2 separate regions of the Homo sapiens genome follow, and region 1 is linked to region 2. The links come from fine-mapping of genetic effects on gene expression. A gene starts in region 2. The other region holds a variant in brackets. All regions are shown on one strand. Distances are from middle to middle.

What was found. PIP is the estimated chance that this variant, and not a neighbour inherited with it, causes the effect. A credible set is the group of variants that fine-mapping cannot tell apart.
Region 1: its variant is the best candidate, but not a certain one, in a credible set for the expression of PARP12 in sun-exposed skin (GTEx, PIP 0.76).

Annotation. Positions count from the first base shown.
Region 1 is chr7:140,015,393-140,020,764 of GRCh38, forward strand. It overlaps TBXAS1 (thromboxane A synthase 1), which reads left to right. Exons shown (of 13, transcript NM_001061.7): 11 at 331-468; 12 at 2,279-2,441; 13 at 4,633-4,901. The coding sequence ends at 4,707. Among named protein-coding and RNA genes, the nearest start is that of PARP12, 45 kb to the right of the region's middle. RefSeq lists an enhancer at 1,346-1,846. The variant C/G (reference allele first, on the strand shown) is at 2,955.
Region 2 is chr7:140,059,857-140,065,228 of GRCh38, forward strand. It overlaps PARP12 (poly(ADP-ribose) polymerase family member 12), which reads right to left and starts at 3,095. Exons shown (of 12, transcript NM_022750.4): 1 at 2,666-3,095. The coding sequence starts at 2,991. RefSeq lists a silencer at 2,703-3,022 and an enhancer at 3,033-3,242.

The DNA.
Region 1 (5,372 bases), 44 kb before region 2:
GCAGTTTGCACCCCGACATGGGGCACAAGAGGGGCCCTTTGTGCTTGACAAATGGATGCATGAAGGGATGGATGAGTACATTTTCATCAAGGACCAAGTGAGCCTAGCCTCGGGGCTGCAGGCTCCTGGGCAGTGAGTGGTAATGGGGTAGGGGCTTGGTCACCCTGGGAAGGGGGCTGAGCAGGGGGTCCTCTGTCCCCAGCCTCATTCCACACACCATGCTGCCTGCCCCTGATCCCCTTCACACTCAGACTCTGCCTGCCCAGCACGCCCCAAGCTCTGCTCCTCATCTCTTCTCTGTATCCACCCCCGACCTGGTGTTTCCCTCAGATTCACACGGGAGGCAGCTCAGGACTGCGAGGTGCTGGGGCAGCGCATCCCCGCAGGCGCTGTGCTAGAGATGGCCGTGGGTGCCCTGCACCATGACCCTGAGCACTGGCCAAGCCCGGAGACCTTCAACCCTGAAAGGTGAGTACTGCCCCTTTTAAAAAGCTCTGAAGGGATGTGAGTGTGTGGGATAGAAATTTACCAGTGGAGGCAGCAGCCGGGAGGCACAGACTTAGCAAAATTGTCCCCAAATAGTCAAAAGTTATGGCAATTCAGATAGATGTTTGCAAGACATAATTTCCAAAGGAAATAATTATACCATTTTTTAGCCACGCGTGGTGGCTCATGCCTGTAATCCCAGCACTTTGGGAGGCCAAGGTGGGCAGATCACGAGGTCAGGAGATCGAGACCATCCTGGCTAACACGGTGAAACCCCATCTCTACTAAAAATACAAAAACTTAGCTGGGCGTGGTGGCGGGCGCCTGTAGTCCCAGCTACTTGGGAGGCTGAGGCAGGAGAATGGCGTGAACCCAGGAGGCGGAGCTTGCAGTGAGCCGAGATGGTGCCACTACACTCCAGCCTGGGTGACAGAGCAAGACTCTGTCTAAAAAAAAATAAATAAATTAAATAAAAATAAATAAATAAATAAATAATTATACCATTTTTTCAAGGTCCAAACTGAATCCAGAGATTTAGCATTTCAGCAGCCCTGCATGCAAGGAACAAGGCAATTTCAAATGATTGTCTTCCATTCATTCAAGCCAGGACATGGGATACAGGATTGTATTTCAGGTCTGCACTGGAAAGTAACGGAACATCATTTCCTTTTTAAAAAACGGGCATCTATGCCAAAACAACAGCTTCAGCTGATGTCTCCATGAATCTAAATTCACGTGATCCACTGGTTGACCTGGGTCCCCGCCTTCCACCACCTGGCTTTGGTTCATTGTCTCCTTTCATTTCTGGGCTCTGTGATTGGAAACATCTGAGCAGGCGGCCCACACTCTGGTCCTCATCAGAACCAGTCAATATCCTGTGTGTGTGATCTGGCAAGGGAAGGGCTGGCCCGGCACCAGTTGTGTTTTCACCTTTCATGGCTCCAACTGAGTTCAGCCCAAGCCTACGACCCAGTCACTGGGAAAACGTGAGCAATGGGATCTACACAACAATATTCCACAGTCAGCAGCTCCTGAACGTGCCGCAGCCACAGGGCTTACAGCCTCACAATAAAGCCCAGGGGTAGTAAAAAGTGAGCTCGCTGTTACAGAACAGTGAGTGCCACCTAGCTTCACTGTCATGGGACACACGCTGCAGGCAAATGCACTACTTGGTAGGAGATTCAGCAGTTCTGAGGAAGGGCCTCCAGCTCTCCAGGTACTGCAGCTTCCAGTGGTTCAAGTGTCCAGTGCAGGGGCCTGCAAAGCAAACACGGGCAGGAGAGGGGCTGCCAGTGTGGCCCAAGAGACCTGCAGGGCAAGCCAGCAGGACACGCCCCCCAGGGAGGGCCCAGGAGGTGCTGAGGTGCCCGGTACCCTGCCAAGGAAGCAGGTGGCGGCTGGGTCATCCTATGGGAGGGGAGGTGGCGCCATGGGCCCAGGTGAGGGTGATCACCAAACCCTGGGGTTCAGGGATGCCGTGTTTAGACTCTGATTGTGGGTGGCGGTGAGTCTGTGGGCTTATTAGCCACACACTGAATTCCTAAGGAGAGGCAGGGAGGGAGCTGTGGACATTCCAGGTGATTCTGCGAATTCAGCTCTGCCTCTGGGGCTGTGCAGGAAGACAGGAGGCCAGGAGCAGAGAGGGACTGAGGCTCAGGAATGAGCAGCCATCAGCTCCCAGAGCCTTGGAGACATCCTTGTCTCAGATGCAGGGGTGGCTCAGCTGGAGCACAGGGCTGCAGAGGGGAGGGAGCGGGTGTTCTGGGCCAGCCCTGACCACACGGACCTGCAGGTTCACGGCTGAGGCCCGGCAGCAGCACCGGCCCTTCACGTACCTGCCCTTCGGGGCCGGCCCACGGAGCTGCCTCGGGGTGCGTCTAGGGCTGCTTGAGGTCAAGTTGACACTGCTCCACGTGCTGCACAAGTTCCGGTTCCAAGCCTGCCCTGAGACCCAGGTGAGGCCCCCCTGCTCAGAGGCAGGGGCAGGGGCAGGGGTGGGAGGGCCACCCCAGTTCTCTGCGTGAGAGCAGGCCAGCCTGGGGGCAACATCAGGCTCTGCCTCCGTGAGCTTGGGCAAGCTCCTTAACCTCTCTCGGCCTCAGTTTCTTGATTCGTAAAGTGGGGGTGATAATAATAACACCCTCTACCTCTCAACATCCTGTGAGGATCCAGTGAGTTCACACAGCGCTCAGGTAAGCCCTGGCAAGCCAACCCGAGCACGTGTTAACCATTGTTATTAGTATTGTTCTCTGCACACCAGGGCTGGACCTCACCTTGCTGTAGCTCTTCCCACTTCCACAAAGGGCACACAGACAATGGCATTTGCAGTTGTGACATGTGCCTGCCTTTGCGGGGTGGGGGGTGCATGGCTTGTCCTACAGAAGGTGGGGACACTTCCTCTGGCTCCTCCTGACAGAGCAAGGTGCTGTCTGCTTGGAGGGGAAGCTGAAGGGTTTCAGCTCCTTGAA[C/G]GGTACCCCCAGCTTTGCCTTCCCCCCTTGTGCAGACACTCACGTGTCCCCATGGCCACAGCCTGGTCCCTCTCACAGGTGGTGACACAGCCTCTTCCCAACAACATATGCCTTCATTCCTGAGGTCCTAGACTGGTGCACAGACCCTGTCCTCACCCAGAGAGCTGAGCTCTCCTGAAATGGGGCCTCACCCACTTTTCCAGCCCTATCTCCCCCCCACATCACACACTCCAGAACCAGCAGACCAATTCCTCAACAGGTCAGGGAGCTTATATCCCCTGCTTTCACACTCACAGCAACCCTGCAGAGTAGGAGTGACTATTCCCATTCTTTAGATGAGGAATCAAAGCTCAGAGAGGTTAAATAACTTGCCTAAGGCCACACAGCAGGACTGCAGGCTTCGTGATGGCAGGGACCCAGTCTGTCATATTCATTGTTGGACTTTCCAGCATCTAGCTTAATGCCAGGCGCATGACAGGTGCTCACTCATTCATTCAACAAACATTAATGAGCAAATGGATAAGCAGCCAGAGATGAGAGAAACGGGGGTCCTCACCCAGATCCTGCCCACTCCCAAGCTCTCCCTCCTTCCTGACATCTGGCTACGTCTCTGCACAGCGTTAGCTATTCCCTGCCTATCCTGACCACTGCTGTCCCCTGCACCTATCCTCATGCTTGTCCTGCCACCCGGAACCCACTGTTCAGCTGCAGACCTGGACAGGCAGGCATAGGAAGGCATAAGGACACAGTTGACAGATAGCAACAATTCTAGATTGAGACAGGCAGTGCCTCTGACAGAGAACCTGGGACCAGCTGCTGGTCCTGGAGGAATAATGAGCTTGGATGGGGGACATAGAGTCTGAGATACTGAAAGTGAACGCATCCACATACTCTGGGCTGGAGACAGGGAGGGGCAGATCGGCAGAGCAGAGCCAAACCAAGTGAGGTCAAGGGGCAGACGGAGGAGCAGCCCCACTGCATCGGGGCTTCCACGTGTGCGGGGCTTGTCTCACTTCCCCACGATCTCAACATACAGTGCAGCAGCCAGACCAGTCTCCCAAAACGCTGCTTATGCCTGGCACTCCCCGGCTTAAGAACCAGCCAGGAGTCAAGGGCTCCCCGTTCTTCCTTGTCTGCTCAGACAAGTGCTGGGGCCTGCAGCTTTTTCAGATGCCTTTGAGGGCTATGGCTCCCACAGGAGACACGTACAGCCCCAAGCACTAAGACCCTGGTGACTCTTTGCTGTCACATTAGCCACTGGCTCATCATTTTACTCAGCTCCAGAGGAAACCCAACTCCTCGAGTAATTCTTTGGTTTTTCTTCAAAGTCCCCAGTCCACCACTGGCTCTGCCTTTTAAGCTGGACATAGGAAAGCTTTCTGGATGTCAGTGAGGCCAGACCACAGCACACATGAGCAGGAACAGCATGAAGCTGCTTTCCCCAGAGCCCCTGGGCCAGAGGGCATTGCTCAGTTACTGGCCAGAACTGGAGAGTGAGATGGGGAGGATCAGCAGGGACGGCTGGAGTCACTGAAAGATAGGTTTGGGGCTTTGCTCTCTGCTTTCTTCTTGTGTGACCTTGGACAACGGACTTGGCCTTCTTGAACCTCCAAGTCTTCATTTGTACAGTGAGATGCTACTATCTCTTTGACAAATATTTTAATTTTCTCTATTTTAGGTACCGCTGCAGCTAGAATCCAAATCTGCCCTAGGTCCAAAAAATGGTGTCTATATCAAGATCGTATCCCGCTGACACAGAAGGCTGCCGGGTGGGGGGAGGGCACCCCCAAATTCAAAGAAAACCCTAAGTGTGGATGTTCAGAATTTTGGAAAAATGTCACTGAAGTGATTGAAAGAGTGCCTGGCATGCAAGGATAAGAGGTTCTTTACATAACATTTCCTAAATGCTTAATAAACGTTTGTTGCACTTGGTTTTGACATTGCCAATGGGGTTTGAACCAGTGCTCTCTCTAAATGAAGAATTGCTGATAAATAAGTGAAAATGTAGTTTTGACAAAACAACTGAGAATGTGGGGTTTTAAAGGAAGTCCCAGGCTTGTGCTGAAAGGAATCCATGGTGCAGGGCACATGAGGACCCCCAGGTAAGCCTGTCCTGATGGCACTAGCTCGTGGCTCTTTCAGCTTCTCGTGCATTGTGGAGTTGTAGAGAATGACATTTATCGAAAGTTCAACCTCAGCAGTGGTTCCAAAGCTTTATTATGCTTTGATTTTCCTAGGTAGGGTAGTACCAACTTTACAGTCAAGTTTCAATCGACAGAAAAATGAGAGTCTGAAAAATGATATACTTTTTCTTTTAAAGAACACTGTATCGGCCGGGCACGGTGGCTCACACCTGTAATCCCAGCACTTTGGGAGGCTGAGGCAGGTGGATTGCCTGAGGTCAGGAGTTCAAGACCA
Region 2 (5,372 bases):
GAGAGAACTGGGGAAGAAATCAGGGGAGCATGCTGGATGGCATAAAGCCTGAGTGGAATACTTAAAGGGTGAGGAGGAGACAGCAAGAGAAAGGAAGAACATTCCAGAAGAGGGGCAAATAATTTGGTGCTGCCAGAGCCAAATATATCTAATAAGTGTAACGATGACTGATGGTAACAATGATAATGACTACTAAAATTTATTGAGCAACTGCCAAATATCGGGGATTGCCAAAATGTTTTATGAGTTAATCATTCAGTCCTCAACCAGCCTGTGAGGGTAGTAATATCATTAACTCCACTTTGCAGATGAGGGAACTGAGACCTGGAGGTAAAGTCACTTGCCCGAAGCCATCAGCTAGCAAGGAGCAGAGCCCAGGTTGAAACAAGGTGGGCTGGATCTTGGGACTGTGCCCTAGACCACCAGGCTCAATGCCTCCTGAGTAGAGGACTAAGAGTCAGGCACCCAGGACTCCGTACCAGCTCTGCAGCAGGACTGATGAGCTATTTCTAAAAGAACTGACCCTGCGGTTCAGGAAGACAAGCAGAGTCACAGGGGAAGCAGAAAAGTGCAGCCAACCACACCCACTCTCCCTAAAGTGAGTCAGAAATGGAAGGTTCAAGAAACTCACCTGTGTAAACCACAAGGAAAAGAGAAAACTGAAGAAAGAAGAAAACTCAAGGTCATCTGAGCCAGTAAATATCACACTACAGATTTCCGAGACAAGTCAGACCTGACCCCACATTTTGGGAACTAGCTTAAGAACAGGGCTGCCATCTTTATTTTACCAAATATGAACATGAAACAGATCTACCAGTTACCCCCATGAGTGGCTCTATCCAGCCACCATTTGCTGTGTGCCTTCCTCCTCGTGGGCTGTTGTTCCCTGCTCTCCCCTGGACTGCCTCATCCCTGAAGGCTGATTTCCCCAGAGTTCCACCCTCAGCCTCTTTTCAGGCCTCAGACGCTACCTCAGATCTGATCCACTCCTGGGGCTGCAACTACAACATACACCGCCCAATATCTCCCAAACCAGCCCAGCGCATTGGGGCCCTGGCCTTCCTCCCAAGCTTCTGACCTGAACAGCTGCCTCCTGGGCATGCTTCCAAACTAAAACCCTCTCTTGCTCTCTCAGTGAACAACACCCAGGCCACCGCAGGAACAGAGACTGAAGAGTCGTCACCTCTCACATATCCTCTCATCACACCGTCACCAGCTATCCCAAATTTCTCACACACATAGCCCTTGGAAAGCTCTAATCTAGATACTTCCAGACAGCTGCTTCCTAGAGGCATTTCCCAGTCACCCTGCATCTAGACAGGGTCACGAGACAGCTTCTGGTCAATGGGATGTGGGTGAAAGGAAATCCACCACTTCTAGACCTGGCCCACAAAAACCTCCCATGCATCCCTCTTTTCGATCAGCCCCCTCGAACTTGATAACCTAGGCTGGCCTCAAGAGCCATGTGCTGAGGGGCACAGAGCGGAGGTCAGTCAGCCTGCATCCCTGAATGACTGTATGGATCAAGGCCCCCACCCCATGCTCACTACTGGGCCTGACATGAGCAAGAAATATCTACTCTATTAAGACAAACATACACACACACACACAAAACAGGGAGCAAGCAAGAAAGGAGGGAGCAGGGGAGGAAGGAATTCTCCTTGATGACTAGCTTCCCAGTGGTTCCCCCACAACATCCTCCCTTAAATTGGCACCCACACCACTACCTTAGACTTCCTAAAACGCAAACCTGATGGTTGCTCTCTCCTGCCATTTTACCCGCCCCATCACCTCCAGGGTGAGGCCCAAATTCTTTAGCATAAACCTCAGCAATCCCTTCCACACATCCCACTGGCCACATGCTATGCACAGAACATGGACGCTAAGTGCTGGGGAGACAGCTGGAGCCTCTGCCCTCAGGGAGTTTCTATTCTACTGGCAGCTGGGTGCCATGAGGAAAATAAACAGTTCCCTGTGACCAAGAGTAAGGGGAGGAAAAATCCTCAAATGGGATGTGATCTTTAGGTTGAGGCCTGAAGGATTAACAAATAGGGCCAACCAAGAGCAAGAAGGGCATTCCAGGCAGAGCAAAGACTCCCAGAAATGCCCAGGCTCCCAGAAATGCCCGGGGGGGGGGGGGTGTTCCAGTCACAGAAGGGTCCTGGGTGGGCAGGGACCAGTGCCCCAGGACCTTGTGGGCGATGGCAGGGAGTCTGCATTTTCCAGTTTGTAAGCAGATTAATAGGGTTGAACTGGGTTTAAAGATCTCTACCAGCTGCTGGGCAGAGAAAACCTTCATTGTCTGGCCTCAAAGCTGGCAAGGGGCGACCCGCGGCGTCGTGGAGTTCCCCTAAGCCGCCGCCTCCCTCCCTCCCCACCCCACACGGCCACACCCGGGTGTTCCACCCGGCACTACCATGCTCTATGTAAATCACTCTCTCCCCCCAGGCGTCTAGAGGACCCCACTCGACCCTGAGTCCCTCGCACTGTGCCAGGTACTCCGCAGGTGCTCATTAAACGCTCGCTTTAGTGAATGACGGTGCGAGGTCAGGGCAGAGCCACCGAATTGTCTGCTCAAACTTCAAGTAGGACCCCCAAGCGGGCTGGAAGTGCGTGAGGGCGCGCAGGACCTCCGCCCGCCGTCGCTCCCGGCGCGGCGCCTTACCCGGCTCTCAGGAACTTGCAGGCGCCGTAGACCATGAACCTGCAGAGGTGGAGCTGCGCGCAGAGCCCCACGCAGCCCGGCTTGGAGCCCTGGTGCGCGCGACACAGGCGCAGCGGCGAGGCGGCCAGCACCACGCGCTCCGGGGCCGCGGCTGCGCCGCCCGCCCGCACCGCCACCACGAAGCGCCCACGCTGCCGCAGCAGCCGCTCCAGCGCGTCGGCGCTCAAGCCCATCCGCAAGCGGCGCCGCAGCTCGGGCAACTCCAGGGCGCCCCCGGCCGCGCACAGCACCTGGGTGACCTCACCGACGACGCCGGCCTGGGCCATGGCCGCTGGGCCTGCTCCCGTCGGACCGCGGGTGGCGCGACGCGGACGGCGGCGGACGCTGGCTGGCGGGCGGCTCTCGCAGGGTGGAGACGCCGGCGGGAAACGAAACCGAAAGCGGCCCCGGGCCGGCGAAAAACAGAACCTGTGCGCCCTCGCCACGCCCCCGGTCCGCAGCTGAGCGGCTGCGCCTTCCGCCTCAGGGCCCCCAGCTGTGAGGCCGCCGCCCGACGGAAGCTCGGGAGCTCTTGAGCTCGGGCGTTCGGCCCGGAGCGCGGGCTGTGGCTGTGGCGGCTCGCGGGGGTCAGTACCTAGTCCCTGAAAATGGCTTCCCTGGATGTTTGAGGGACCAGGAGCCCCTAATGCCGCGATGCTCAGCGCGCCTTCAGTCAGAGGGAGCCTCGAGGGCGGCGGCAGCGCTGGCGGAGCCGGCTGGACGCCGCCGGTTAAAGCCGCTCAGCGTCGCCCAGGCCAAGCCCGGGCTTCGTAGACGGCTCACAGAAACAGGGACAACTGACGGGAGCTCTCACCCCTCGAACAAGTGACAAAAGCGATCACTCCGCATAGAAGACGCACTTAATTAAAGGTTCCTTTCGCCTCGGTGCATCAATGAGTTCCTTCATTTAAACATAAAAGGGTATGTCCTTTAAAAGAGCAAATCCGTGAGCCGAGATTGCGCGACTGCACTCCAGCCTGGGCGACAGAGCGAGACTCCGTCTCAAAAAATAAAATAAAATAAAATAAAATCCGTTACTCCCAGCCCCTGCTAAGTAACGATTGAACAAATATTTTAGAAGACCCTTCAGAGCAAAGGACCCTCTCACACGCTGAGAGCAATGCGAGTTGTTAGAGCCCTTTGAGGAGGTAATCCAGGAATAGCTATTAAAATTGAAAACGCGTGTGACCTTTGACCCAGCAATCTTTCCTCTCGGAATCTTCCAGAAGTAAAAGGAACAGTAAATAAGTTATGTGTGAAAGTGTTACTGGGGGAACCCTACCTGGGAGGTAGGGTTACGTGGGAACAGTGTGGTTGATCTTTAAAGACTATTACGAAGGCTGTTTAACAAGCATGCGTTAGAGCTCCGTGTGCGGATGTAGAGGGGCAGACAGCCATGATGTGGTGGTAAACGAGAAAAGATGGCTGTACAGAAATGTCTAAATAATCAAGTTGAATGATCAAGAATTAATTTTTTTAAATGTCTGAATAACAAAAAGAGAAGCCTGTGTGTGTGTGTGTGGCAGGATATTTTTGAATAAGCACGGAGAAAGATGAAGAAACACACAAGGGTAGTTGAGAGGAGGCAGTAGGAGGTATTAGGAAAATGGAAAAGGGAAGATGAGAGGCAGAAGGATTGTGGGGGGAGAGTACTTACGGTATACGGTATAACATTCACTAAAAATGAATATAAAAATCTTAACTATAGGCCAGGCACAGTGGCTCACGCCTGTAATCCCAGCACTTTGGGAGGTCAAGGCGGGCGGATCACTTGAGGTCAGTAGTTTGAGACCAGCCTGGCCAACGTGGTGAAACCCCGTCTCTGCTAAAAACGTAAAAATTAGCCGGGCGTGGTAACGGGCGCCAGTAATCCCAGCTACTCGGGAGACAGGCAGGAGAATCGCTTGAATCCGGGAGGCAGAGATTGCAGTGAGCGGAGATCATGACACTGCACTCCAGCCTGGGCGACAGAGTGAGACTCCATCTTTAAAAAAAAAAAAAAAATTACCTGTACTATTACTACAAAAATGTAAATAATAAGTGTATGGATAAAGACTAGATAGTAACATGGACAAATGAAAATGAATTTATTTAATTAGGAAATTGAATGAAGGGTTTTCTCTTGGATTTTAATTGTGATTTTAATGTTTTCATTGTATAAAATGTTAATTTTGTTTTTGTTATTGTTTTAGAGACAAGGTCTTGGTCTGTCACCCAGGCTGTAGTATAATGGTACAGTCATAGCTCACTACAACCTGGAACTTCTGGGCTCAAGCGAACCTTCCACCTTAGCCTCCCAAGTAGCTGGGCCTAGAGGCACGTGCCACCATGCCCAGATAATTTTTATATTTTTTTGTAGAGACACTGTCTCATTTGTTGCCCAGGCTGATCTTGAACTCCTGGCCTCAAGCAGTCCTCCCACCTCAGATTCCTAAAGTGCTGGGATTACAGTGAGCCACCACGCCTAGCCTAAAATGTTAATTTTTAATTTAAAATGTTAGGCAGAGTGCAGTGGCTCACGCATGTAATCCCAGCATTTTGGGAGGCCGAGGTGGGTGGATCACTTGAGGTCAGGAGTTCAAGACCAGCCTGGCCAACTTGGTGAAACCCCATCTCTCCTAAAAATACAAAAATTAGCCAGGTGTGATGGTGTGTGCCTGTAATCCCA